7 linked regions of the Homo sapiens genome follow. Changing the gene in region 6 together with the main gene of any one other region gives a genetic interaction. Each region holds a gene or a part of one and is shown on either strand. Other genes may lie near its edges. The genes, in order: TRAPPC12, SEC31A, VPS51, EZH2, RAB1A, MAN1A1 and PTEN.

What was found.
Region 1: changes in MAN1A1 (region 6) and TRAPPC12 together harm fitness more than expected from each alone (negative genetic interaction), as found in Homo sapiens cells (one large-scale study listed by BioGRID).
Region 2: changes in MAN1A1 (region 6) and SEC31A together harm fitness more than expected from each alone (negative genetic interaction), as found in Homo sapiens cells (one large-scale study listed by BioGRID).
Region 3: changes in MAN1A1 (region 6) and VPS51 together harm fitness less than expected from each alone (positive genetic interaction), as found in Homo sapiens cells (one large-scale study listed by BioGRID).
Region 4: changes in MAN1A1 (region 6) and EZH2 together harm fitness more than expected from each alone (negative genetic interaction), as found in Homo sapiens cells (one large-scale study listed by BioGRID).
Region 5: changes in MAN1A1 (region 6) and RAB1A together harm fitness more than expected from each alone (negative genetic interaction), as found in Homo sapiens cells (one large-scale study listed by BioGRID).
Region 7: changes in MAN1A1 (region 6) and PTEN together harm fitness less than expected from each alone (positive genetic interaction), as found in Homo sapiens cells (one large-scale study listed by BioGRID).

Annotation. Positions count from the first base shown.
Region 1 is NC_000002.12:3,382,558-3,387,088, forward strand, and holds part of TRAPPC12 (trafficking protein particle complex subunit 12), read left to right. Parts: intron 1-4,531. UniProt on the Homo sapiens protein: Component of the TRAPP complex, which is involved in endoplasmic reticulum to Golgi apparatus trafficking at a very early stage.
Region 2 is NC_000004.12:82,863,194-82,867,724, reverse strand, and holds part of SEC31A (protein transport protein Sec31A), read left to right. Parts: intron 1-408; coding exon 409-570; intron 571-764; coding exon 765-917; intron 918-3,126; coding exon 3,127-3,363; intron 3,364-4,332; coding exon 4,333-4,407; intron 4,408-4,531. UniProt on the Homo sapiens protein: Component of the coat protein complex II (COPII) which promotes the formation of transport vesicles from the endoplasmic reticulum (ER).
Region 3 is NC_000011.10:65,105,183-65,109,287, forward strand, and holds part of VPS51 (vacuolar protein sorting-associated protein 51 homolog), read left to right. Parts: intron 1-2,398; coding exon 2,399-2,545; intron 2,546-2,620; coding exon 2,621-2,840; exon of another isoform or gene 2,841-2,842; intron 2,843-3,014; coding exon 3,015-3,732; intron 3,733-4,097; coding exon 4,098-4,105. UniProt on the Homo sapiens protein: Acts as a component of the GARP complex that is involved in retrograde transport from early and late endosomes to the trans-Golgi network (TGN).
Region 4 is NC_000007.14:148,806,883-148,809,087, forward strand, and holds the end of EZH2 (histone-lysine N-methyltransferase EZH2), read right to left. Parts: coding exon 2,189-2,205; intron 825-2,188; coding exon 764-824; 3' UTR 501-763; downstream 1-500. UniProt on the Homo sapiens protein: Polycomb group (PcG) protein. Catalytic subunit of the PRC2/EED-EZH2 complex, which methylates 'Lys-9' (H3K9me) and 'Lys-27' (H3K27me) of histone H3, leading to transcriptional repression of the affected target gene.
Region 5 is NC_000002.12:65,089,217-65,093,123, forward strand, and holds part of RAB1A (ras-related protein Rab-1A), read right to left. Parts: intron 1,863-3,907; coding exon 1,767-1,862; intron 1-1,766. UniProt on the Homo sapiens protein: The small GTPases Rab are key regulators of intracellular membrane trafficking, from the formation of transport vesicles to their fusion with membranes.
Region 6 is NC_000006.12:119,189,262-119,193,792, forward strand, and holds part of MAN1A1 (mannosyl-oligosaccharide 1,2-alpha-mannosidase IA), read right to left. Parts: coding exon 4,516-4,531; intron 623-4,515; coding exon 403-622; intron 1-402. UniProt on the Homo sapiens protein: Involved in the maturation of Asn-linked oligosaccharides. Progressively trim alpha-1,2-linked mannose residues from Man(9)GlcNAc(2) to produce Man(5)GlcNAc(2).
Region 7 is NC_000010.11:87,933,125-87,937,655, forward strand, and holds part of PTEN (phosphatidylinositol 3,4,5-trisphosphate 3-phosphatase and dual-specificity protein phosphatase PTEN), read left to right. Parts: coding exon 1-127; intron 128-4,531. UniProt on the Homo sapiens protein: Dual-specificity protein phosphatase, dephosphorylating tyrosine-, serine- and threonine-phosphorylated proteins.

The sequences.
Region 1 (4,531 bases), on a different chromosome or scaffold from region 6:
TAGGTCCTAGGTACTACGACCACATATTTATTGTCTCAACCAAGACTCCTTTAAGAGTGAAAGGAGACACTTAATGATTTTACTGAGGCGAAGCACGTGGCTCACGCCTGTAATCTCAGCACTTTGGGAGGCCAAGGCAGGAGGATCACTTGAGCTCAGAAGTTTGAGACCAGCCTGGCCAACATATTGAGTCCCCATCTCTACAAAAAATACAAAAATAGCTGAGTGTGGTGGTGCACACCTGTAGTCCCAGCTACTCCAGAGGCTGAGGCAGGAGGATGGGCTTGAGCCCAGAAGATCGAGGCTGCAGTAAGCCATCATCGTCCCATTGCACTCCCGCCAGGGTGACAGAGCCAGACTATGTCTCATAAAATAATAATACTAATAAAATAATAGAAATAACTTAAACCATGGGTGAAAAATTGAATTGTTCTGGGAAAAATCAAGATGTATAGTTATCAAAGTGATAAGATAATGTGCTTTTTAAACTTTACTAGATAATACCAAGTGGTTTCTCAACATGGATGTTCAAAGGTATACCTCTTTCAGCTCTGTTGCTTATTTTTCTAATGGATCATTTAGTGTGCTTTTATTAATTTGTAGGGATTCTTTATGTATTCTTCGTGTTAATCCTTTCTCAGTTACATTTGTTTGTTTCACTTTTTTTAGGTTTTTAATGATAGAACTTTCCATTTTAATATAGCAGATGTATCCATTTTCCCTTTATGGTTTGTACTGATTATGCCTAGTTTAAGAGGCTTTGCCTACTCTGAAAATATATTCTCTTATATTTTCTTCTGAAAGTTTTGAAGTTTTGCCTTTCACAGTTAATTTTTGATCCCCCACCCCCGCCCCGCCCGAGACGGAGTCTTTCTCTGTCACCCAGGCTGGAATGTCGTGCCTCAATCTTGGCTCACTACAACCTCTGCCTCCTGGGTTCAAGCGATTCTCCTGCCTCAGCCTCCCGAGTAGCAGAGTAGCTGGGATTACAGGTGCCCGCCACCACACCTGGCTAATTTTTGTATTTTTAGTAGAGACGGGGTTTTACCATGTCGGCCAGGCTCATCTTGAACTCCTGACCTCGTGATACGCCCGCCCCGGCCTCCGAAAGTGCTGGGATTACAGGCGTGAGCCACCGCACCCGGCCTTCACAGTTAAGTTTTTAACGTCCCTGAGATTGATACTGTGTCTGTGGTGAGACAAGATTCCAAGTTTATTTTTTCCCAGCTGCATGATTTGTCTACACATCACTCAAGGAAAATCGTCTCTTCCTTTGATGTGTGCTACATATTCCCTTGTGATAGTTCAGTCTTGTTTTTTTTTTTTTTTTTTTTTTTTTTTTTTTTTTTTTTTTTGAGATGAAGTTTCGCTGCTGTTGCCCAGGCTGGAGCACAGTGGTGCGATCTCGGCTCACTGCAACCTCCGCCTCCTGGGTTCAAGTGATTTTCCTGCCTCAGTATCCCAAGTAGCTGGGATTACAGGCGCCCTCCACCACACCTGGCTAATTTTTGTATATTTAGTAGAGACAGTGTTTCACCATGTTGACCAGGCTGGTCTTGAACTTCTGACCTCAGGTGATCCACCCTCCTCGGCCTCCCAAATTGCTAGGATTACAGGCCTGAACCACCGTGCCTGGCCCAATATTTCAGTCTTTATACCATAGATTTTTGATGTATTCTACATAAATAATCATACACGAAGAATGAAGGTTTGTATTTTTTTCTTTTCAGTTTTTATTGTAGCTTTTAGTTATTTTTCTTGCCTTAATCCTGCCCGAGGACTCCAGTATTAGGCAGCATAAAAATGTTGAAGAGGACATCTTTATCTTTTTTCTACTTTTAAAGAGAATGCTTTAAACGTTTCACTGTTAATTTGAGGTTTCCTTTAGGTTTTTGGTAGATACCTTTGATTGCATTAAGGAAGTTACTTTCTGTTGCTAGTTTGCTGACAGGTTTTATCTTGAGCAGATGCTGAATTTTATTAGATACTTTCTTGTGCATCTATTGAGATAGTCATGTACTTTTATTTAATCTATCGCATTAAACCAACAGTACATTTCTGGGATTACCTGAGTTTGGTAGAAAATAAATACATTGCTGATTCAGTTAGCTAATATTTCAAGATTTTTGCATGTGTGTTCATGAGTGAGATGATAGCTTCCCTTTTAGTATGGCCTTGTCAAATTTTGGTCTCAAGGTTATATTAGCCTTATAAAGTGAATTGGGTCATGTGTCTTTTTTCTTCTCTGCAAGAATTTTTGTACTGTAGGAATTATCTGTACGGAATCTTTGGTAGAATTCACTGGTAAACCCTCTGGACCCTATATTTTCTTTGTAGGAAGACTTAACTACTGGTTATACTTTTTTTATGGTTATAGAACTATCTCGTCATATATACATGGTTATTACTAGTGTCTGCTTTGCATTTGAACCTTACATTGGAATAAGATTAGAGTAAGGAAACCCTTGAAGTGAAGAAGCTATTTTGCTACAAATTATATGTCCATTCTCACAAAATCTTATGTATATAATTTATATAGATGTAGCTTTATAATATATGTATGTCTTCCCATTCATAAAAGCATCATCTAAATCACGTTTTATATCATTTTTATTTGAGCATTCCTCTTGATTTTCTAGAGAAGAAACCCTCAGATCCTTACTTACAAGCATTTTCCTGCATCTAGATTTTATTTGTGTGAAAGCAAAAGTGATCATCCTTGCCCTAAATTATTAGGGCTTTTTATTACTTTGGTATTTACTTAAGAATAAAATTTATTTTTTTATTTTCTTCTCTTCTCAAAAGTGGTTTGCAGGTATTAATGAAAATTTTGGACATTCCCATTTTATCAGTTCTCCTTAATTTACAATTTATAAAGTTTTTAAGCTTTATAATTTAGAAGCATTTTACCTTAATTTTTATTATTTTGGTGGTTTTTCTAGGCGATGTTTTTTGTTATTATATCTCTGATAAACAGATTTCCCTAAATCTTACAGGTTTAAAGCAGCTTCATCTTCACAATAGTAAGAATTGTTTCTTTAAAAAGTTTCTTCACAAAGGCAATAAAACTTTTAAAATCTGTGAGATTGAATCAGAATTAGCTTTAGAACCTAGAATTTTGTTAGGGCTGAGGGTAGATGAGACGGAGGGAAGATCCCTTTCTCTCATCATTAGCTTATATCGAAATCAATTCTTATTTCTAAAATAAAATACGCAGACCACGCTAGTGCCTTCAAGTCCTGCTGGGAGACTTCAGAGGGGGCACTGCCTCATGCTGCCTGTTTGCTCCTTGTGCCCGGCCTCTATCCCTGCACAGGAAGGACCCGAAGGAGCAGCCTTACCATGCACAGGGGGCTCCCCCTTTGGGGTTCTAGGGCAATTTGTTCTTCGGGCTCCCGGTGAAACATGGCAGGAAAAAAAACGTTTTACTCCTTTTCATTGGATTTTTTATTCATTTATACTTAACAATTATTGGATGAATGTATAAGGGAATTAGTAGCTGACCAGGCTGAACCGGAAACTTCTTCAAAATGTATAACTTGGATTATGTACTTTAAAATAATGTTTTGGGAAGGCTGACTCATTGGGAATACTATGATGGAAGTGTTGACAGTGAGAAAAGGGTAGTCTTATCTAGAGATCAGCTAAGTGTCATTTTTTAAGTAAAAAAGGTACGTGTTGTTTTATTCTGAAAAAAATCCCTTATCTTTTATCATAGTCTCTTAGATTTCCTTAACTTGAATTTGTTCACTATGAGAGTAAAACTACATAAAGTAAAAGTTTTTCAAGAAAAAGAACAAATACTTTTTTACAGTTTGAGCTCTTTGTCTCATTCTTTGGCTGGTCCTGGTTTCCCCACTCACTAGCGGTGTGATTTCGGCTTACATAGCCTCCCAAGGCCTCAGTGTCCTCATCTGCGAAACGAAGACAGTGATAGCAGCTGTCTCGAGGGGTGTTCTGAGAATCACACAGGCATATGTATATATAGCCAGGGGCATAGTATGTGCGGATAAATGTTAGCTAGTTGTGTTGTCAGCTTCAGCCATCAGTGCTTAGTGAGTGTGCTGTTTTCTTACTGTTTAAATTTTTCATGTCATTCGCACTGTATCAGATTTCCAGAGTCAGGCAGATAATATGAGCTGGGGCGTGGGGCGGGGGTAGGGGCGGACGGCATGGGGAAGTCAAGAGACTATTACAAATTGAAGAGTCTTGGGAGGGCTTCATGGAAGAGGAGGGACTTAGCTGACTCTCAGAATGAAGTAGTGTTTATATGGCTGGAACCTCACACCTACTGGAATGGCTACTATGAAATAAAAACAAAATAACAAGTGTTGGCAAGGATGTGAATTCCAAGGCTTGTGCACTGTTGGTGGGAATGACAAACGGTTCAGCCACTATGAAAAACAGTTTTTTGGTGCCTCAAAAAAATTAAAAATAGAATTACCATATAATCCAGCAGTTCCTTCTAGGTATTTACCCAAAATGATTGAAAGCAGGGTCTCAAAGAGCTGTTTGTACAGCCACGTTCATT
Region 2 (4,531 bases), on a different chromosome or scaffold from region 6:
GGAGGTGGAGGTTGCAGTGAGCTGAGGCTGCTGCCATTGCACTCCAGCCTGGGCGACAGAGCGAGACCCTGTCTCAAAAAAGAAAAAAAAAAGTTGACTCTAATAGAGTGTGCTGGTCTTTCAAATGCATCCATTATTTTGAACACAGAAAAGCCTCAGTTTTTAAAATGCGTTTATTCAAATCTGATTGAAATTTTAAGCTGCATTCCTGTTAATCAGAATAGGTCATCGTAATGGATCATTCTTGCACTTTAAAAAATCTTAGTATTCTTTTTCCTGGCTAAAGATACTTTCTACAAAAAAATATTCAATTTAACTATACTTGTTGACCACATTAATTCAGGTGTTTTGGTTACAAAGTGGCCATACCATTTTCTGAGTTTTGTTGTTTGTTTTTTGTTGGCCTAGGTGTTATATGAACTTCCCACCAACACACAGTGGTGCTTCGATATTCAGTGGTGTCCCCGAAATCCTGCTGTCTTATCAGCTGCTTCGTTTGATGGGCGTATCAGTGTTTATTCTATCATGGGAGGTAGCACAGATGGTTTAAGACAGAAACAAGTTGACAAGGTAATAGGAAGTGTTAAAGTTTTCTATTATAATGCCTGAAAAAAGTATGTGTTGTGTAATATTTTGAAATGACTTCACTGATTAACAATGCTGGTTAATTGGACAATTGTGATCAAAAATTTTTTTGGATATGACTGGAAAAAAATGAAACTTTGTGTATGGTCGGATGCTTATGTTATTATTATCTTTTTTAGCTTTCATCATCTTTTGGGAATCTTGATCCCTTTGGCACAGGACAGCCCCTTCCTCCGTTACAAATTCCACAGCAGACTGCTCAGCATAGTATAGTGCTGCCTCTGAAGAAGCCGCCCAAGTGGATTCGAAGGCCTGTTGGTGCTTCTTTTTCAGTAGGTGGATTTTGTTTTTATGGTCCATAGGCACAAAGGACTTTTTATACCAAAGTGTTATTATAGAGTCACTCTGATGGAAGCAATCAGGGTTTAAGTTGGGATTTGAGATGTACTTGTGGGTATTTCATCATTCAAAATGGTTTCTCTGAAAAATTGGAACCTACTCTTTTTTTTCCCTTTTTTAAAAATCATGGTAAAATATACATAAAATTGATCATTTTGTTCATTTTTAAATATACAGTTCAATGGCATTAAGTACATTTACATTGTTGTTGTGTAGCCAACACTTTATATTCCTCCCCTCCTCCATTTTTTTGTTTGTTTGTTTGTTTTTTTGAGACAGTCTCACTCTGTTGTACAGGCTGGAGTGCAGTGGCACAACCTTGGCTCACTGCAACCTCCGCCTCCTTGGTTCAAGCGATTCTCCTGCCTCAGCCTCCTGGGTAGCTGGGATTACAAGCACGTGCCACCACACCTGGCTGGTTTTTGTATTTTTAGTAGAGATGGGGTTTTACCATGTTGACTGGCCTGGTCTTGAACTCCTGACCTCAGGTGATCCACCCGCTTCGGCCTCCCAAAGTGCTGGGATTACAGGCATGAGTCACTGCACCCGGCCCTCCTCCCTTTTAAATTTGTCTTCCTTCTCTCTCTCTCTGTCTCTCTTTCCCTCCCTCTGTCTCTCTTTCCCTCCCTCCCTCCCTTCTTTTTCTTTTCTTTTCTTCTTTTTTTCTTTTCTTTTTGCAGGGAGTGTCCTCCCTCTTCTTCATCCTTTTAGCTTTCTTTTTTAATTGCCAGCTTTTTTTAATGGTAAAAAATGCATAATATAAAATTTTAATTGTAAAAAATGCATAATATAAAATTTACTATCTTAACCATTTTAAAATATACACTACAACCATTTTTAAATATATACTACAGTAGTGTTAACTATATACACGTTGTTGTGCAACAGATCTCTAGAACTTTCTCATCTTGCAAAACTGAAACTCTGTGCCCTTGAACAACAGCTCCCCATTTCCTGTTTCCCTTGAATCCCTGGTAACCACATTCTACTTTGTTGCTAGGAGTTTTCTACTTTAAATTACTCATATAAATGGAATCATGCAGTACTTGTCTTTTTGTGGCTGGCTTATTTTACTTAGCTTAATGTCCTCAAGGTTTATCTGTGTTGTAGTGTGACAGAATTTACTTCTTTTTAGAGGCCAAATAATATTGCATTGTATATATATATATATATATATATATATATATATATATATATATATATACCACATTTTTTTTTATCCATTCATTTGATGGTCATTTTGGTTGCTTCCACCTTTTGGCTATTGTGAATAAATGCTGTGGTGAACATGGGTTTGTAATTATCATTTTGGGATCCTGCTTTCAGTTTTTTGGGACATATACCCAGAAGTGGGATTGCTGGATCATAGGATGGTTCTATTTTTAAGTTTTTGAAGAACCTCCATACCATTTTATAGCCGTTTTACCATTTTACATTCTCACTAGTGGTGCACAAGGGTTCTAGTTTCTCCACATCCTCTCTAGCACTTTTTGTTTGTTTCTTCCTTTTACATTGCTGATACCTTGCCTAATTCTTTCATGCCAAACTTCTAATAGCTTGATTTCATATTTGTTGCTTGTCTTTTCCCCCTCTAATCTCTACTACATATTCCAAGATTAATCTTCCTAAAATGGACCTTTGAATATGTTTTATGTCACTCGTAAGTCTGTTCTTTGGATCTGCTTAATCTTCTCATCGTCCTATCTGGTCTTCTCTATCTGGGTGGATCACTTGAGGTTAGGAGTTCAAGACCAGCCTGGCCAACATGGTGAAACCCTGTCTACTAAACATACAAAAGTTAGCCAGGCATGGTGGCCGGCACCTGTAATCCCAGCTACTCAGGAGGCTGAGGCAGGAGAATCACGTGAACCCAGGAGGCAGAGGTTGTAGTGAGCCAAGATCCCACCTTTGCACTCCAGCCTGGGTGACTAAGAGCGAAACTCTGTCTCAAAAAAAAAAAAACCAAAAAACCAAAAAAGTACATTTCATCTAGAACAGAAATTGAAGTGGTGTCAGACTGTGGCGCATGAGAGGTTGTATCAACTAATTTCATCCAGATTATCTGTTTAGGCCACTTTATAAGCACTTTTTTTGGCCATATCCTTGGGTTAACACTGAGTTTGTTCATTCTCTCTTTTATAGTTTGGAGGCAAACTGGTTACGTTTGAGAATGTCAGAATGCCTTCTCATCAGGGAGCTGAGCAGCAGCAGCAGCAGCACCATGTGTTCATTAGTCAGGTTGTAACAGAAAAGGAGTTCCTCAGCCGATCAGACCAACTTCAGCAGGCTGTGCAGTCACAAGGATTTATCAATTATTGCCAAAAAAAAATTGATGCTTCTCAGACTGAATTTGAGAAAAATGTGTGGTCCTTTTTGAAGGTAAAGTTGCTGTTTAAAGCTATATTATTTCATTATCTGCAAATTTAACTGTTCCTTTATATTCTAAATCTGTCCTCCTATTAAAGAAACAATTGAAAAAGTGTGATTTCAGCAATTCATCATGAAATTAAGAAGCCTTATAAAGAGCATACAACCTAACTTATGTCCAGAGTTTTTCCTTCTCTGCTTTGAAAAGTGTAATATGAAATACATTTTTAATAAGTAAAAAAAAATAATAATAGGTCTGTTTAGAGGAGAGCGACATAGTCAGCACACCTATTTTGAAGATGAGTACATAGAGTTTACTATAATGAAAACAGAATATTTAACATCTATAGTAGATCTAGTTAAGGAAAATGAAAAAAGAGGAAGAGGAATAGAGGAGAGAGGTTGGAGGCATTTTTCCTTTTACTTTAAGAGGAGTTAGATTAGAATAACAAATAGAATTTCCTGGTTGGTCATTTTGCCTCCACTGGAATGTCTGTTTCTTTATACGGTACTGGTTTTTCAAAGGTAAAGCAGTCTTGAATACAGTTAGGTTAAAGTATAAAATTAAAGAATTTATATTTTGTAATAATTTTGGGAAAGAATTTTAGGACATAGAATATTCCACATAGTTTGAGTTTTGTATCAGTTTAACCTTTGGACATAAGTTTGTATTTACAGAAATTACTGTTCAAAAGTAAGCTTTATTCAACCAGGATAATTAATTACTAGTATATTTACTATTAATAAATAACTTATTTAAAAAAATAATTCTGGGCACATGTTCTCAGGACCTCCTGAGGCTGGGTCTCCAAATAAAAAACAAAAAAACCCACTATTCTTTGGATTCCTTCAAACAGTGAATCTTTAGAATGTAGACTTCAGATATTTTTAATAATTCTCTTTGGAATTTGATTCATTCTTATAAAAATTCGGCCTTTAAATGTAGGTCTTTGTTTTAAGAATATGTCTTTTTTTTTAAAGGTAAACTTTGAGGATGATTCTCGTGGAAAATACCTTGAACTTCTAGGATACAGAAAAGAAGATCTAGGAAAGAAGGTAAACTTTTGGGAAAGTTAGATGGCATGCTCTTTATGAATCATACTTTTAAAAAATAAAGTTCTACACAGATTATCTCAAATCACCCAATAAACATTTAATAATAATTTGTGTTTGGTTGCCA
Region 3 (4,105 bases), on a different chromosome or scaffold from region 6:
TGAGGTCAGAGACCAGTCTGGCCAACATGGTGAAACCCTCTCTACTAAAAGTACAAAAATTAGCCAGGCATGGTGGCACGTGCCTGTAATCCCAGCTACTCGGGGCTGAGGCAGGAGAATCGCTTGAACCCAGGAGGTGGAGGTTGCAGTGAGCTGAGATCGCGCCACTGCACTGCAGCCTGGGCGACGGAGGGAGACCCTGTCTCAAAAAAAAAAAAAGAATGAGGTTTTTTTCTTTGTGATCTACCATATGGAAAGGTTTGTATATATTTTATGGCATTGTTTGGGAAAAATGCAAACTGTGTGCTTCCTATGCTCTCACATCACCACAATCATGACCACAGAAGAGTTCTGTGACCAAATGTGTTGGGTTTCTTCCCCACACACCAAGCAGCAGACACCCGCTGGGTGTCCTCTGATTTAATTCCAACACTATTTACCCAGAGATAGCATCAGATTCCATGAGTTGAGGGCTGAGTCCCCAAGCCTGCCTCCCTTCAGGCACTAGTTCAGTCCCAAATCTGCCTCCCCACTTTCAGGCACTAGCTGCAGGTCAGGGCCTCAGGCCTCCAGAATTTCTGACCAACTGGCTCCAGGTAGGGGTTTCCATAACTCCCTCTTTGGGCTCAGTTTGCTGGAGTGGCTCACAGAGCTCAGGATAACACATTTACCAGTTTATTACAAAGGATGTTACAAAGGGTACAGATGAGCAGGTGCATAGGGCGAGGTGTAGGAGAAGGAGCATGGAGTTTCCATGCCCTCCCCGGGCGTGCCACCCTCCAGGAGCCTCCAGAGCTGAGATCGCGCCACTGCACTCCAGCCTGGGTGACAGAGTGAGACTCTTTCTCAAACAAAACAAAACCAAAATATCTCCTGTTACAGATACACATTTCTGTCTTATCCTCTTCGCCTTTCTTTATGAACATTGTTGGTATGTTCAATGGAATTAGGGAAATTAGTTGGGAAATGTTGGCAGTTGTTGGACAAGAGATGATAGTGGCTTACAAAGAAAATGTTGCAGGTAGACCTTCCATGACTTGGTAATGGATTGATTACTAGGTATATTAATCCAGGTTCATACTGCTGTAAAGAACTGCCCGAGACTAGGTAACTTATAAAGGAAAGAGGTTTAATTGACTCACAGTTCACAGCATGGCTGGGGAGGCCTCAGGAAACTTACAATCATGGCAGAAGGTGAAAGAGAAGCAAGGCATCTTCTTCACAAGGCAGCAGGAAGGAGAAGTGTTAAGCGAAGCAGGGAGAGCCCCTTATAAAACCATCAGACCTCGTCGGGTGCGGTGGCTCATGCCTGTAATCCCAGCACTTTGGGAGGCCAAGGTGGGCGGATCATGAGGTCAGGAGATCAAGACCATCCTGGCTAACATGGTGAAACTCCATCTCTACTAAAAATACAAAAAATTAGCTGGGTGTGGTGGCAGGCACCTGTAGTCCCAGCTACTTGGGAGGCTGAGGCAGGAGAATGGTGTGAACCTGGGAATTGGAGTTTGCAGTGAGCAGAGGTCGTGCCACTGCACTCCAGTCTGGGCGACAGAGCGAGACTCAGTCTCAAAAAAAAAAAAAAAGAATAGGTGGAATTGAATTGAGGCCGTCAGTGAACAGTCAGGAACATTGGAAGGCTCATCCATGTGGATGTGCACAAGGAGGTGACAGGAGGAGGAGAAGAGGCAGTGATGGGGAACTGAGAGGAGTGTCAGAGGACAGTAGAGACAGCAAAGAGGAGGGTTGTGGCTTGATGGCATGGTCTTCCTAGAAGCCGGGGTTTTGAAGAGAGGAGATCTAGGCATGATTTAGAAGCATGAAGGGACCAGGCTCCCAGGCACCTGGTGTGTGAAAGGAAAAACAGCCTCCCTAGGCAGGATTCTATCAGGACCAAAGGGAAAGGGCCCTTCAGAGAAGACAGCCCATGTTCCGGAAAGCATGTGAAAGGCTTTGGGAGGTCTGGAAAGGAGATGAGGGTCAACAAGAATGTATTGCCTCATCCAGGCAGTGCGCTGGACACGCAGATGCGCTTGGGAGCCAGCGGTCCCTGCCTTGGCTGCTTGTGGTCTGATGGAGCAGTTGAGGCACAGTGGTGGCAGCTGGCTAAGCACCTGCGGCCTGCTTCGGATCTGGACTAATTCTGAGGGCCGGCTCTCCTGGGCACCAGGGTTAGGGGGTTACGGGGAGTATGTGAGTAACGCCTGCTTTGGGAACATAAACCCCCTCCCCCGCCCCCATGTGCGCTGTGACCCACGCCCTCGCAGTCCTTTCTCTGGAATCATCCATGCGCCCCTGGAGCAAGCTGGGGCGTCTGTGAAGGGGTGGGTGAGAAGGAGCTGAGGTTGCGCCCGCCCTGCAGTCACCTGCTCTCCCCTTTTCCCCGCCCCTGCCCTCCTAGACACCATCCGGAAGATGAAGAACGATTTCCGGAAGATGGAGGATGAGATGGACCGGCTGGCCACCAACATGGCAGTGATCACCGACTTCAGCGCTCGCATCAGCGCCACGCTGCAGGACCGCCACGAGCGCATCACCAAGCTGGCAGGTGGGCGCTGCCGGGCAGGGCCTGCAGTGGGCCTTTCCTGGGGCTCTGGGGCTAACGTCACCCTCCGTCCCCCAGGGGTCCACGCGCTGCTGCGGAAGCTGCAGTTCCTCTTTGAGCTGCCCTCGCGCCTCACCAAGTGCGTGGAACTGGGCGCCTATGGGCAGGCGGTGCGCTACCAGGGCCGCGCGCAGGCCGTGCTGCAGCAGTACCAACACCTGCCCTCGTTCCGCGCCATCCAGGACGACTGCCAGGTCATCACGGCCCGCCTGGCCCAGCAGCTGCGGCAGCGCTTTAGGTGTGGCCCCTCTGCCCTGACCCCAGCGCTCCCGCCAGCCCCGAGCCCCATCTGTGCCCGGCTCCTGGGCCCTCCTGGAGCTGTCCCCCTGCCCTGTGTGTGCTTTGCTTTCCTGCTCCTGCCCCATCCACCGGCAGCCCCGGCCCTGCCCTTCACTACCTCTCCCTCGTGCAGGGAGGGCGGCTCAGGCGCCCCGGAGCAGGCAGAGTGCGTGGAGCTGCTGCTGGCCCTGGGCGAGCCTGCGGAGGAGCTGTGCGAGGAGTTCCTGGCGCACGCCCGCGGCCGGCTGGAGAAGGAGCTGAGAAACCTGGAGGCCGAGCTGGGGCCCTCACCTCCGGCTCCCGACGTGTTAGAGTTCACCGACCATGGAGGCAGTGGCTTCGTGGGCGGCCTCTGCCAGGTGGCGGCGGCCTACCAGGAGCTGTTTGCGGCCCAGGGCCCAGCAGGTGCCGAGAAGCTGGCGGCCTTCGCCCGGCAGCTGGGCAGCCGCTATTTTGCGCTGGTGGAGCGGCGGCTGGCGCAGGAGCAGGGTGGTGGTGACAACTCACTGCTGGTGCGGGCGCTGGACCGCTTCCACCGGCGCTTGCGGGCTCCCGGGGCCCTGCTGGCCGCTGCCGGGCTCGCAGACGCTGCCACGGAGATCGTGGAACGAGTGGCCCGCGAGCGCCTGGGCCACCACCTGCAGGGTCTCCGGGCGGCCTTCCTGGGCTGCCTGACAGACGTCCGCCAGGCGCTGGCAGCACCTCGCGTGGCTGGGAAGGAGGGCCCTGGCCTGGCCGAGTTGCTGGCCAATGTGGCCAGCTCCATCCTGAGCCACATTAAGGCCTCTCTGGCAGCAGTGCACCTTTTCACCGCCAAAGAGGTGTCCTTCTCCAACAAGCCCTACTTCCGGGTACGCCTCCTCTTGGGTGTTCCTTGTTCAACCTGCTGGTTGACCCTCCAAAACCTTTTATGCCAGTGCTTGGGAAACTGGGGAAACCAGGCACTCTGGGTGTGGTTTCAGGTTCTTATGCACGGTCTGGGGGGTGGGGAAGGCTCAGGGCATCTGCAGCTGGGCTGAGAAGCAGGGCATGGTGGGGTCCCCAGTGTTGGCTTTCTCTGCCCCCACTCAGGGAAGCTGCTCCGGGGTACTTAGAATGTAGGATGATGCTGTCCCTTGCAGAGGGGGCTGGGGCACTTAGAGCCCCAGCAGAGGGTCATTAACAGCCTTACCTGGAAGAGGGGACCTGCTGTGGACCTGGGCACCTTCTCTTGCAGGGTGAGTT
Region 4 (2,205 bases), on a different chromosome or scaffold from region 6:
CGTTTCCTTGACGCTTTCAGAGTTTGTGATTTTTACCTCTGAGAAGATATAAAACTACAGTTTGGTTATACCTATCAATCACCTTTTGTGATAAGGTAGGTAAGGAATCCCAACTTATATTGTGTTTGTTTCTAAAGAACTCTATCTAGACTAATGGAGTTTAGAACTAGGTACGTTCTTAAAAATAACCTAAAAGTCTACTCTGTCAGTTTATATATGGGGAACAGACTTGGAGGTTAAATCTCTTTCTCCAGGTTGCACAGCTGACTGGAACGTACCCACCCTGGTCTTGTCTATAAGATCAAGCCCTTTACTGGGTAAGCCCTCAGGATGCACAGCAGTGTTCTTCATATATGTCTTCCACATATTCACAGGCAGTATTAGTTAAATCAAGATTCATACAAAGACAACTAAAAAACCCAAGGAGTTAAATTTAAAAGTTTTTTGTTGAGCAGTCCTGAAAGCAGTTATTGACACGTTATGAGAGATGATTCAACAAGGACAAGTTCAAGTATTCTTTATTCAAAGTTGAAAAATGTACCATACTGCATTATTGCAAAAATTCACTGGTACAAAACACTTTGCAGCTGGTGAGAAGGCAATAAAAAGTTGATTTTTAAACTCATTACTATAAATTATTCTTACAGTACTTTGCAAATTCAGAATTTCAAACTGCATGTTCTTTTTCTAAATTGCCCACAGTACTCGAGGTTCCTGAAGCTAAGGCAGCTGTTTCAGAGGAGGGGGGAGGAGGTAGCAGATGTCAAGGGATTTCCATTTCTCTTTCGATGCCGACATACTTCAGGGCATCAGCCTGGCTGTATCTGAAACAACAGGAAGGAGATGTCCGCTGGATGGCCACCCATCCAACATGTGCTGAGACTTAACACAACAAAGCCTGCTGAAGATAGTGGGTGCATTAAAATGTCTTTAAAAAAAAAAAAAAAAAAAAAACCCATCCAATTACACAGCTGCCTGCATAACGGCACATTCATAGAAGGCAATGCATAGGTCTGTGTTGCTGGCCATCTAATTGAGACGCTGCCAAGTTCTGAAGTGAACAAACCTGTCTACAAGCATTCCCAGAGCCTGACCAGCCTCCCCTATGCCTCTGAAGCAAGTGGTCCCAGGAAGGCTGGTCCACATCAGGATGCTTAGGCCTGACGCTGGGAAGGCAAAATAGAACCATGGTCTGGAAAAAATGATGACCATAGCAAAGAGGGCCAAAGAGCAGCCCGCCAGTTGCTCCCCCAGGTGAAGCAAGAACTGGAGTGCAGCGGACACCCAGAGAGGAGCACAAGAAGCCCACCATGGGGGGTGAGGCCACCGGGTCATCCCAAGGAAGCTCCACCCCACACTCTTCATTCAGAGCCAGCCTGGAGTGAAGGCAGCGGCCTTTGCTAAAGTGGGCCCTTCACTCAGACCCTGTCTGCCTCACTGAGAGCTCGCTGCTGTGCAACAGCCATTAAAGGCCAGCCTGAATATGCAAGAACACAGTACTCAAAGACAGCTTCTGGATGGGATGTACACGGGGCTACAGGAGTTCATTAACTAGACAGTCATCTGACTGCACTTAAATCTGTATTCAATGGCTGACTTAAATGTATCCCACAGAGCTTGACAGTGTCAACTGGCAGCCTAATGCCTAACCACACAGATACCATTGGTGGCCCACGTGTCCCAGGCATCCCCACAGGGTGATCAGACAGCGATTTGCCAACAGCCCCTTTTAAAATGGTAATGATATGTGTAATAAGTATTATAGCAAACAATAAATTAAGTAGATCTAATCCATAAAGATATGCATAGTATATTGTCAAGTAAAACCATGTTGCAGAAAAATCTATAGGACAGTGTGATCGCACTTATCTGGAAAACGCTCCACGAGTGAGCATGCAGCATGCGGCATGATATGAGAAGGTCTAGGACTCACCCAGCTGTCAACAGCAGGGTGAGAAATGGGGCTTTCTGCATGGATTTTACTCTATTTTAAAAATAAGCATGCCTTGTATAATATATAAATGGATAATAAATACATAACAGGAAAGTGTAACCTAATTCCCCACTAATGCTCATGGCAAAGTGACCCATCAAAAGAAGCAAAGAACTAAAAACCCTCCTTTGTCCAGAGTTCACAATCCAGTAGAAAAAGCCCTTAGAGATCATGCTAGAAATGTACTTTACCAACCTGTAATCAAAAAACAG
Region 5 (3,907 bases), on a different chromosome or scaffold from region 6:
AGATTTTTTTTTTTGAGACAGGGTCTTGCTCTGTCACCTAGGCCGGAGTGCAGTGGCACAATCACAGCTCACTGCACCCTCGACCTCCCAAGCTCAAGCCATCCTCCCGCCTCCGCCTCCGGGATAGCTGGGACTACAGGCACATGCCACCACACCTGTCTTTTTTTTTTTGGATTTTTTGTATAGATGGAGTTTCACTATGTTGCCCAGGCTGGTCTCGAACTCCTGAGCTCAATCGGCCCACCTTGGCCTCAAAAAGTGCTGAGTTTACAGGTGTTAGCCATTGCAGCTGGCCGTAAACAGATATATTAAAATGACTATAAATATCTAAACAATGACAAACTAGAATTTACAGGCTTAACGATGAAAATACCTTATTTGAAAGGGAAGTATAGCTTAATATTAAACTGCAACGCAGGCAAACCCAACTGCTTTGGAATATGCAATTTAAATGTACTACAAAACCTGGTTTTGAAATTTGATTAATTTTTTTTTTTTTTTTTTGAGACAAAGTCTTGTTCTGTCATCCAGGCTGGAGTGCAATGGCGCGATCTCGGCTCACTGCAACCTCTGCCCGCTGGGTTCAAGCGATTCTCCTGTCTCAGCCTCCCAAGTGGCTAGGATTACAGGCACGGGCCCCCACGCCTGGCTAATTTTTGTATTTTTACTAGAGATGGGATTTTGCCATGTTGGCGAGGCTAGTCTCTAACTCCTGACCTCAGGTGATCCGCCCGCCTCGGCCTCCCAAAGTTCTGGGATTACAGGCGTGAGCCACTGCGCCTGGCCTGAAATTTGGTAAAATTTTGGTTTATGAATAAGATGACCTACTGTTACTACTAGAGATGTCAAAAGATGTTATTAAATATACTCATTTTCTTTTCCACAGTCATATTTAGAGGACGAAAGTTTTCATTTAAAAATATTTCACGGTAATAGTAGAGATTTTTTAAACTAGCATCATTTTTTTCTCCTGCAGATATCACCCACCCAGCACTTCTAATGGCACTGAATCTAAATGCTTACATGTAAGTTATCTCCTAATTAGCTATGATTTCTCATTAGAGGTGAGATTTAACATTTGCCAAAAGAAAAATAAATTCCAATTTTGAACGTTTATCTTTTGTCCTTTTCTTTGATAGAAAGGACACTGAAATCTAAGTTTCTGATTTAAAAAAATAGTAACAAAAAAAGTTATGGCCCCTGGATCACATGCTTCACACTGTCCCACATTGTTCCCTCCATCGCTCTGCCCTCTCTCACAGCTAATCTTCAGATACTCATTCTCATACTAAGATCCTCCTACAGCTTATCCTATTCAAATTCTTTATTTCTGAACCACATCCTCCATAGGCAGAGACCCCCGAATCCCACTTTTGGCAATTCTGATGGACAAGTTCTAATTACCAGGCCATATTCCTGTTAATACTTAACACCAAGAACACAGTATAAGCCAAGCAACTCACGATTCCCTACAAACTCTTGCCTATATGTTAGAGTCTTGGCTATTTGATCAAAGTTATTTAGTTGACAATAAATACAACCAGAATCCCTTGAAAGCAAACGTAAAACTAATTACTAATCTTTTATTTATTACAGGAAAACAAATGTCTTTTAAGTGATTCACATTTATATTTGAGAGTGGACAAAGTTTTCTGCCATAAAATTAATACTGATGGCTTATATATGAAGTAGTAAATGAATCTGACATTAATCAAATAATGGCTTCCTACTTGGTCACTGTAACACAATCTCCTCTTGGAACTTACCTGATCTGTCACATCATACACAACTATGATGCCATGGGCTCCTCTGTAATAACTGGAGGTGATTGTTCGAAATCTTTCCTGGCCTGCTGTGTCCCACTATTACAAAACAATCAAGAAATCCAAACAATTCCATTAAAATAAAGTTGGGGAAAAGTGTAGGAGGGAGGGGAAATAGTTTAGTTTTCATAACTGTGGAGATTATCAGGATGTGATATAGAAACATTAGTCCTCAACTCATACCACTAAATTGCACGGTAATAAGCACCTGAAAGTCCAGAAAAGAAGTAGTACCTACAATTGAGCTTACGATAATAATACTAAAATTACAAGCTGTTGAGAGCAGGAACTATGTCATACTTTTCACATTCCCTACCGCCTTTAACACTGTGTTTAGGAATGCCACTGGCCGAAAGCCCTTGAACACAGAACTCTTCCATGTAAGACAAACTCACTTGCTAGCACATTCTACCATGATTAAAAGCACTGGAGGGACCTAATTCAAATAACTACCAGTCAAGACAGAACTTTAATCATCCCAAGCAGGTGTCTTTTTTTTCCCCTCTCAAGCAGCGTCTCATTCTGTCATCCAGGCTGAGTACAGTGGCATGATCATGGCTCGCTGCAGCCTCAACCTCCCACCTCAAGCAATCCTTCCACCTGAGCCTCCTGAGTAGCTGGGACTACAGGCACATGCCACCACACCCGGCTAATTTTTTCTTTTTTGTAGAGACAGAGTCTCGCTACATTGCCCAGGCTGGTCTCAAATTCCTGGACTCAAGCAATTATCCTAACTCATTCTCCCAAAGTGCTGGCATTACTGGCATGAGCCACCATGCCTGGCTAGGTGTTGTCTTCATCCTAGAGAAAAAAATGTAAGGAAGATGACTCCAAATACTTTCATAAAACGTATTTTAAGAACAATTTACTGCACTTCAACCATTTAGGCTCAAACTCCCAAAACAAATGCTAACATTATTGCATTATAGTTCTGGGTTTTAAAAAACTGTTGGGACTGGGTACGGTGGCTCACGCCTGTAATCCCAGCACTTTGTGGGGCCGAGACGGGCGGATTACGAGCTCAGGAGTTCGAGACCAGCCTGACCAACATGGTGAAACCCTGTCTCTACTAAAAATCCAAAAATTAGCCAAGTATGCTGGCGTGCGCCTGTGGTCCCAGCTACTCGAGAGGCTGAGGCAGAATCGCTTGAGCCCAGGAGGCAGAGGTTGCAGTGAGCTGAGATCACACCACTGCACTCTGGGCAAGAGAGCCAGATCCTGTCTCAAAAAAAGAGAAAAAAAAAAAAAGAGGCTCAAAGTCTTTCAGTGTATCCTTGGAGGAAGCATGAACTCGAGGATCAAGCTACCCTGACTTCAAAACATCAAATCCAGGTTCCTGGTTATTTAATATTAGGGAGAGTCACCTAACAGTTTCTTCATCTGTAAATGCTAGATAGCATTCACCTTGTACAACAGCTAAAGGGGTTTAAATGAACTAATGTTTGTAAAATGTGCCTGACTATAGAAGCTGCTCAATAAAGCAAGTTTCCTTTTCTTCCTTGCTCACCAACCTCTTTCACAAAGATAGAAGGAAAAATTGTTTTTTGACTAAAAGTCAACAAGAAGTTACAGCTGATTAAAGTAAGCAATGGCACCCAAAAAGTAAAATTTCCTTTTTATCCAAAATGGAGGTATTGCTATGTTGCCCAGGCAGATCTTGAACTCCTGGGCTCAAGTGTTCCTCCTGCCTCAGCCTCCAAGTAACTGGGACTACAGGCACTGATATGGTTTGGCTCTGTGTCCCCACCCAAATCTCATCTCAAGTTGTAATCACTGAGGGAAGTGATTGGATTATGGAGAAGTGATTGGATTATGACGACGGTTTCCCCCATTCAAGTGATAGTGAATGAATTCTCACAAGATCTGATGGTCTCATAAGGGGCTCTTCCCCCTTCACTTCCTTCACACTCTCTCGCCTCCTGCCATGTAAGACGTGCCTGCTTCCCTTTCTGCCACAGTAAGTTTCCTGAGGCCTCCTCAGCCATGCAGAACTATGAGTCAATTAAACCTTTTTTTTAATAAATCACCCAGTTTTGGTCAGTTCCTTGTGGCAGTGTGAGAACAGAATAATACATGCACCATGC
Region 6 (4,531 bases):
TTGTGTTTCAAATTCCTATTTTATAAGAAGGGAGTGGGATTCATGATCTGTTTCATGGGGGATGTGGAGAAGATTAATAATGGTTAATAAAATGCTAAGTTTCTCTTTGCAGGGAGATAGAGACCCTTGCCCAATGTTATTGGCAAAAGCAGAAGTCAGTAAATTAGGCTGGCTTTAACTCTTTATGGCCTGGATTTTTGTTTCTTGGTAAACTAAAGGTAGATATTTTTAGGAAGAAAAGCATTGCCTTTTAAAATAAAATATACATTCCTTTGAGACATTAATCACGATCATCAAGCTTCATAGGCAGAGCGGATAGTCTTTTGAGGGCAGCAATGACAAAACTGCATTAAATCAAAGCATGTGGGAATAGACCATAAATGAAGAATAACATGTACTCACATGTTCGATTATATGATTCATGACAAGTACGGGCAATTTCAGCCCCGAGTTCAAGGTAGTGTTGGGCCATGCCTTCGGGAGCTGCATCAGCCCCGAGTGCGAACATGCCCCCCGCGAAGCAGGTCAGGTGGCCCATCTTGTGCTCCAGGAGGCCCCCTTTCCACTCTGCGATATAAGTTAGTCCGCTGCTAGACTTGCGGATCAAATGAGTCTCGATAGCCTGTGAAAAACACTTATTTTTTAACATTTTGTAATCTCTTCTCAAATTTATACTAAAAATATGCCCAACATTAAAAAAAAAAGAATAGAATACACCTGACAATCAGAGTTTGGTGTTAAAAATCCATTCAACCTGAAATTACATGCTATTGCTTTCTGTATTCCTCCTCTAGTTTATGCCTTATTTGTTTGATTAGTCAGAATTAACACTGCTGCGCCAGCACATTTGGTTTTGCTTGGTTCTGTGACCAAACATTGTATTCCTCATATTCAAAAAACTTTCTCCTTCCCAAAGACAGGCCACTGTGCAGCAGTAATAGTTGGTTTGGTACATTTTCATTTCCATAAGTGGTGAAATAACACAGCCCAGGCCCTAAGGTGGATGAAGAACACAGCATATTTGTGCATGAGATCCAGGATGGTGGCAGAACTCTTCCTTTCACTTCTGTAGGCTTGGAGGGATAACAAAATAGAGTGGCAAAGAGGAGGTGTTCTGGGGCCAGAAGACTTGGCTTCAAATTCCAGCTCTGACACTATCTCTAATTTGTGGGAGTGAACAATTTGCTTACTATATCTCTAAATCTCAGCATCCTAATCCATAAATGGGAACAACAGGATCTCCTGATACGACTCTGCCACATTTTGTTTATAAAGCAGTCACTAATGCAAGTGGCACTTGATAAGAGTCATTTATAATTATCATTTACATCTCCAAAGTGGTGACGCTTGAATCAAGTTCCTCTCTAATACTTCTATTAAAAAGCACACTATTATATAATGAATAAATGTATATATTTTAAAAATCAGAAAAATCTTTAAATTTGGGAGAAATGATAATGTTTACAAAAATGATTTATAAAACATCTTTTATTTCTATCCCAGGTCTGTTGATATTCTCTTAAACTAGACAGGTAAGTAAAATATGCCTTATATTTTAAAAAGCAAAAATAAAGTGTGTTTGGCATTGCTAATCTCCAATTACTCTAACAGAAAATGTTCTCCCCACTGCCCCACAATTACTTCATGGAAGGAAAAAGGACATGACTGTGTCTATACCTGTACACTGCTATCAAGAGAGAGGGATTTGTTAGGAAGCACATTTGGGAATAATAGACACAGAAAAAAACTTGTGATAGAGAAGAATGAATGAAAATGAACACACAGGAAGCTAAAACCTTTCCTACCTTTATTAGAAATAAACGAATGAAACCAAGATGGTAAGAAATAAATGAACATATTACTGTGCTCATTAACCGTGGTTAAGCTAATGTTATTGATGGTTTAGTTATTACATTAATATTTCATTCTTATTTTATGCGACTGAACATCTTAGCTATTTATACTTCTCATAACACAAATTGCAATAAAGTCCTTCAAGCAGATACTTGTTCATCACCTAAGAAATTATTCTTTCTACATGGCAAGAGTAGTAGCTTTTGAGGATGAATTAGAGAAACATTATTACCCTGTTATGGATCCTAAATAAAGTATTTCTGGCATGATTCGGACCAAGTTGCTACCTCCTAATAAAAACTACAATGAAATTCCAAGACCTTCAAAGCAATAATTTTGTGTGGCCATGGGAAATATAAATAAATACAAAGAAGGATAGTCTTTAGTAGATCTGAAAAAACTGTGTCAAGGATACAGATAATTGATTAGAAAAAAGAGTACTATATATTTTGTGATTTAATCCTTGTATAATTGATTTAAAAAACTGGTTTGATGAAGCCTTCAGAATCGTAAGTGTCTGATATGTCTTCTGCCCAGGTATCATTTGCCATTGTGAGTTCCTAGTGTAGTCTCCAGATAGGGCCATGATAGCCAGTTGAAAGCTCAAAATATTTTGTTATTAAAATAATCAAATAAAACATATCACTCTGGGATTAAATGCTTCCCAAAATCTACTTGAAGCTACAACAGAGTAGCCATATCTTCAGTAATCAATTGTCCAGAACAATAGTGTACAGCATCCTCCCCTTGGTTACAATAATCTTCTAAAGTACAACTTAGCAGAAATAAACTTTGCTGTATAAGACAATGCTACTTCTCAAAACAGAAATTTAGTTGTTCTAGCTTTGCTTTCTAAGTTGAAAATATACAGTGGATTGAAAATTAGCTTTTACTACTAAGAGAAGCAGGAAACACTTTGACTTCATTTGTTCTTAATGGATTTTCCTGTCAATGATTTGTCTGAATACAATATACTAAAAGTTGTGTGGGTATGGTTTTAGGAATTAGGAAGAAAATATTTCAAATAATATTTTAAAGCTGTCTTTTTTTGAACATCAAGATCTTAGACGGCCAATTTAAGATTAGAATAATTAAAATGTCTGCCAGTATGGTAATTAGAGGATGACAGAATGGAAACTATAAAATATGGAGAACTCCCCAGGTTAAAATCTGAAACCTCACAGCAATGAGGAAAAATAAACCTAAAAGAGGCCATGTGGATCATATCCTAGTTTGCTTTTGATGTTAATCATGTGCCTTTATAAAGGCTGTGCCAAATGTAGGCCAACGTTCTCACTAAGGCGCTTCTGGTTCCTACATGTGAAGTAGTGAAGACTTGTAAAGGAAACCAATGTCATACTCAGTGTAGTTAACCAGAACAAAGCAAGCTGCATTTATATTTAAATAAAAAAGTACGCCTATGTCAAAATAACCCAGACCTCTTGTTAGAAAGACCAATTTTATAATGGCTACATCTTTGGGATTACAAATTTCCATTTTTTTCCTATGAATTAACACTTTATTAAAAAATTTCTAAGCTGTCAAGAAAAATAAAATTTTTCTGAGGACTGAGCCACTATTTTACAACACTACTTGAGAAGCCTTGATAATAATATTAAAAGAATATATGTATTACCACATAAAATACTTAATCGCAAAAGCACCTGATTCCACTAAAAAATTTTGTTCCTGAAGAGTACAAATATTTTAGATAAAGTAATTTTCTTTCTAACTTTATTTACTTTCTAACTTTATTTTCGGTTTTGATTGAGGCTTAACTGGAGGTGTTTCTTAGTTTACTTTTATACTAGCCTCCTCCTAGAGACTTTAAGTAGTTTCTAACTTACCTTACTAACTTACTGCTTGCAAATTAGTAAATGAAGATTTAAGTGTAGAATGGAAATTCTTACAAATAAATCCACAGTGGATGAGTTAAAAGGAACAGGTGCTGATATAGACAAACTTTAATCTTAATTTTGGTTCGACATGTAATCTCTCTGAGGTACAGCAACTTTATCTGTAAAACTGGGTAATAATCTCAAGTACTGTGAGAGAGAAAAAAACCCAACTCCACCGCTTCATTTAAAGGAGCTACCTAACACACAGCTTAGCACATGGTAGGCAATTCAACACTCAACTGTTGCCTCTTACTTCTCCACTGTAAAGAATCTTTGATACTATTAATGATCTTCCCTGAAATATGAGTTTGTTCAGATTTTTATGTGTGGATTTCCTTAGAGTACTGTCCATTTATCTCTGGGGACAAGTTTACTTCACATGGAGGTAGCCATTGGGACTGTCTGTCTTCTCAGGCAATTTTAACTTAGGCAATTGTCAGAATACAAATTCAGGATTTCCCCCTGCATAATTTAAATTGTGGTCCTAAGGAGAGAATTCATATTTATCAAAGAATACTACTTTTTCAGATATGTGACTCTTAACTGAGGTTTAAACCATGCAAAAACTTTAACGGCCCTATTAGAAATAAACATCAAATATGATTACCATTATTACGATGATATTAGCAGATATCGAACTCTACCTAATTGGAAATACTTTGTAACTCACTCATGTAGTATACCACTTATTCATTAAAACTTGATTAATATACAAATTATAAGTTAGGGCTGAGTGGCAAAGATGATTTAAATATTGGGTTACCTGAACAGCATCAAAA
Region 7 (4,531 bases), on a different chromosome or scaffold from region 6:
TCACTGTAAAGCTGGAAAGGGACGAACTGGTGTAATGATATGTGCATATTTATTACATCGGGGCAAATTTTTAAAGGCACAAGAGGCCCTAGATTTCTATGGGGAAGTAAGGACCAGAGACAAAAAGGTAAGTTATTTTTTGATGTTTTTCCTTTCCTCTTCCTGGATCTGAGAATTTATTGGAAAACAGATTTTGGGTTTCTTTTTTTCCTTCAGTTTTATTGAGGTGTAATTGACAAGTAAAAATTATATATAAATACAATGTATAATATGATGTTTTGATGTATGTGTATATACATTGTGAAATGATTACTACAGTCAAACTACTTAACATATTCATCACCTCACATAATTATTATTCTCCCCCCAGGGTGAAAGCATTTAAGATCTACAAGCTACAATTTTCAATTATACAATGTTATTATTAACTATAGTCACTATGCTGTCCAGTAGAGCTTCAGATCTTGTTCATCTTGTGTTCCTCCCTCCCCACCCTCAGTCCCTGGAAAACAGGTTTTAAAGATAGTTGCTAATCCTTATTTCTTCTAAATTTTTAAATCAGTTGCTGCCTCAATTTCTATATGAGAAATGACTGATTGATTTCATTTTTCTGTTCACGCTACCATTTTCATATCATACTAGCACATGTTACCCATTAACTGTATTGCAGATTTGGTCTCACAAAATTCTTCTAAAATAACATTTTTAAAAAGCATATTAATCAAAAATAAGCTTTATATTTCTGAAGCTTGTTTGAGCATAGAATGCCTTTGGATAAAATACCATTACCTAGTAAAGTGTGAACTTTTATAATCCATAAAAATTATTCTTTTATAAGAATATTCATAAATGTAGTTAGATTAATAGAAGATTCTCGATTCTTTGATCAGAAAACTAAGGACTATATTGAAAAATCAGTGACAAATTTAATTCTTATAGTACATCTGAAAGAAAAAAGAAAACTCTTGGGAGAACTTTTACAGTGATTTAATTTTGCTGTTGATATATTTCTTTGGGTGGTAAGTATGGCAAAACATGTTAAAATTTAATGCAAAGAGATTTTGTACATTTTTCCATCTCTAAGAAGGACAAAGCCTAAGCCCCTCCAGATAGATAGAAAAACTCATTTAGAGAGTTCTCCTTCATGTTAATCTAATTTCTTCTTAATTCAGCTGTAAAACAGAAATAGAATGATCGTATTAATCATTTAAAGCTGTGTAATTGCATAGATTCCTTGTTCCTTTACCCCCTCTTATATCTTGTTTCCTATCCTTTGTGACTTTTTTTGCATTATATATAAGGATGCCGAAATACTGTTTATTGTTGATAGTTTACAAAATTGAATCTTACATTAGTGCATAATTTTGGTGAATGTTGAAGATTATGGTAGATTGCCTTACATTTCTGCATATTGTTTGCACCTTGGAATGATAGCACTGGCATGAATTATAGAGCTGAGGATCTAAAGATTTTTACTTTGATTTATCCCATTATCATCTGCAGGGAAACAATTGCTTTTACTGATTAAAAATGCAGGCTGGGCACAGCGGCTCACGCCTGTAATCCCAGTACTTTGGGAGGCCGAGGCGGGCGGATCACAAGGTCAAGAGATCGAGACCATCCTGGCCAACCAACATGGTGAAACCTCATCTCTACTAAAAATACAAAAATTAGCTGGGTGTGGTGGCGCGTGCCTGTAATCCCAGCTACTCAGGATGCTGAGGCAGGAGAATCGCTTGAACCCGGGAGGTGGAGGTTGCAGTGAGCCGAGACTGTGCCACTGCACTCCAGCCTGGTGATAGAGGGAGACTCCATCTCAAAAAAAAAAAAAAATGCAGTAGCAAAAGCGATGGTAGAAATTTAAAACAGAGTTGATGAGCAGCATATATTTTGGTAGTGGAAAAAAAGGTAAAAAATTTTTTGTAATAAAATAGAAAAATTTTGTAATGTGGAGGCGCAGAACACTAGATTTAAGCCAGGGGGTCTTAAATTGTGTTACATTCCTTTTAAAGTCTGATGGAAGGTATAAATGTTCTCCCCTCAAAAAATGTGCATAGTGTACATAAAATTTTGCAGTTTTTATTACATTGAAATATATTCTTTTAGACAGAATGTAAAAGAACCTTCATGAAAACTATGTCACTTTTTTATGCAAAAACCAGTGGCTACTACATGAGAGCAATGAATAAATCTAAGTGGTACAAATTAACCAAAATTAAGCTTTAGTTCTGTTCAATACTAAATTTTAATGAAAAGACTGCTATTTAACTTTTAAAATAACAAGTTGAAACTATGCTCTTTGACTTTGACTTTGCAACTTTTATATGATCTTTGATATCCAATCAGTGTTGACTTTGGTAAAAAGTGCTGAAAATGCTATTTTACAAAAGAAAGAAGAGTAAATGGAATCTGTAGATTCTATTGCCTGATGAAAGTAGACGTGTCAAGAAATAAGAATTCTCCAAGGCTCTTCAGATAAATTCATGTTTCATCATTTTCTTTGCCTTCAAGTTACTGAGATCATTTTTGGCAAGATCTGTATCATTAATGCTGTGTTAGGAAAGAAAAGATTATGACTCCACATTTTACTTTCAAGGTTGAAGAGTTAAACTGTTTAAAAAGAGTGTATGTTATCCTGTAAACAGCAGTATCAGGCTGTAGAATTTGTCTTCTGAAAGCAGGGAACTTATATATAGCAAAGAACTTCATAGTGCTCCCATTTCTTGACAAAACCTCTCGAGAAGCTCTTGATTGAAAGTCTTGGCTTTCATGAATCTGGCAGCTTTCACAATAGTGGATTTTTCATGACAAATCATCTTACACAGGGAATTATTCAAGGGTTGGCACTTGAAACAGTAGAATACTTTCACAACAAGAGATAAGATTTCTTTCAGGATTGATGACAGTCTTGCACCCTAGCGCATACTGATGAAGAGAGCAGTGGGTGACCATGACATGGAGAGCTTCTGTCTTTACCAGTGCCCCAATATCAGATGTGTTGTCTGGCAGTAAGGTGTACTGTCTGCCTACAGAATACTGAGGTTTCTTCAGGAGAAGTTTTTTGGTAAAGAAACTTTACCATTTTGAAAGTGTTAATGTTTTCTGAAGCTTCCAAAAAGATTCCAAAATGGGAATGTTTCCTTGATTGTGTCACCATGCTTGCATTTGATGAAAACTTGTAGCCGGCTATACTGAGAAATCATATCTGAAGAAAGGTGGTACTTCCAATCTTTTTGTGACCTACTTTATTATTGTTTTTTTAATGTCAGGGTTTTTTTTGGAATGGAGAAAAGTATTTGATAGAGGTATTGCAACAGTCTTATTCTTCTTCATGCTACAAGTATATTTGACTCTTTCTAAGATACTTGCCTTCACTGTTCAACTGTGTGACTTTTTGTTTGTTTAGCATTACAATCAATATCCTAGTAGGATGATTTAATCAATGATTTTTAATTGGAACAAATAGTTTTTGTAATGGTCTAGGCTTTTCCAACTTAACTGTGCTCTCACATGTGGTCTCTTTTTCTCCCTCTTTCCTCCTTCTTATACACTCTCACCCACACACATATGCATACATACCCTGTCTGATGTATCTGCTTCTTCAGAATAGTTGGCTGTGCTCTGCTGATGATGAGAACTTGCCATTTAAGAAGGACTTGGGATAGTCCATGTCATCATGTTCAGGGATAAAAGTAAAACCCAAGGGCATTTAAACTTTATTGTATTTTATTTTCTGTTTCCAGTCCAAATTAAATCCAAGAGAAGGCTCCATAATCAAAAAGTAAGGACATATTTTAAATTTGCCAATGGGAAGATATTCTAGTCATTACAGTCTGGTAATACTATCAATTCTGTTTCTCTTCAGAGGTGAGGGGAGACTATTTGATGAAATCGTAAGTCCTGTAGGGTGTTGTGAAATAGGGCCAGAATGAAAGATAGCAAGAATAGTGTTATGAAAATAAAATGCAAAGTTTATAATATCATGTGGTAAAATGTAATAGTATTTACTTCATCAGTAGAACTGCTCTAGTAGCTGTATATTCTCCATCCTTGCATAGGTTGGAATATCCCCCAAGTGAAAAGAGATTGATGGGCTAATAGTTAATAGAAAATGGAGATCTGTACATACAGTGTTAAGAATGTAGATATTAAAATTGTTATATTTAGCTGTTACATAATATTAAGACTCAGAGTTAAGTAATTTCACTGAAATTGATTGCTTTTTGTGTCTTGGAGTCAAAATAAATAACTGAAATCTACTATACTTGGCTCATGCTTAATTAATATACTTAGACCATATTTCGGATGAATTATTCACAGAATCTAAAGGAGTATCCTCGTGTTCTTACCTTCTTTATCCCTGTGTTTATTTAAAAAGGCAAAAAAAATGGAGCAGATGCTGTTGGTTGACCATATTTTACTGAACAGTAGCATTTGTGTTTAGGTTGAAACAGCATTAGAAAACTAGATACGGATTAAAGTCAGTGGTAGGTTTTTTTTTTTTTTTCTTCCAGGAATGTTTCTTATAGAT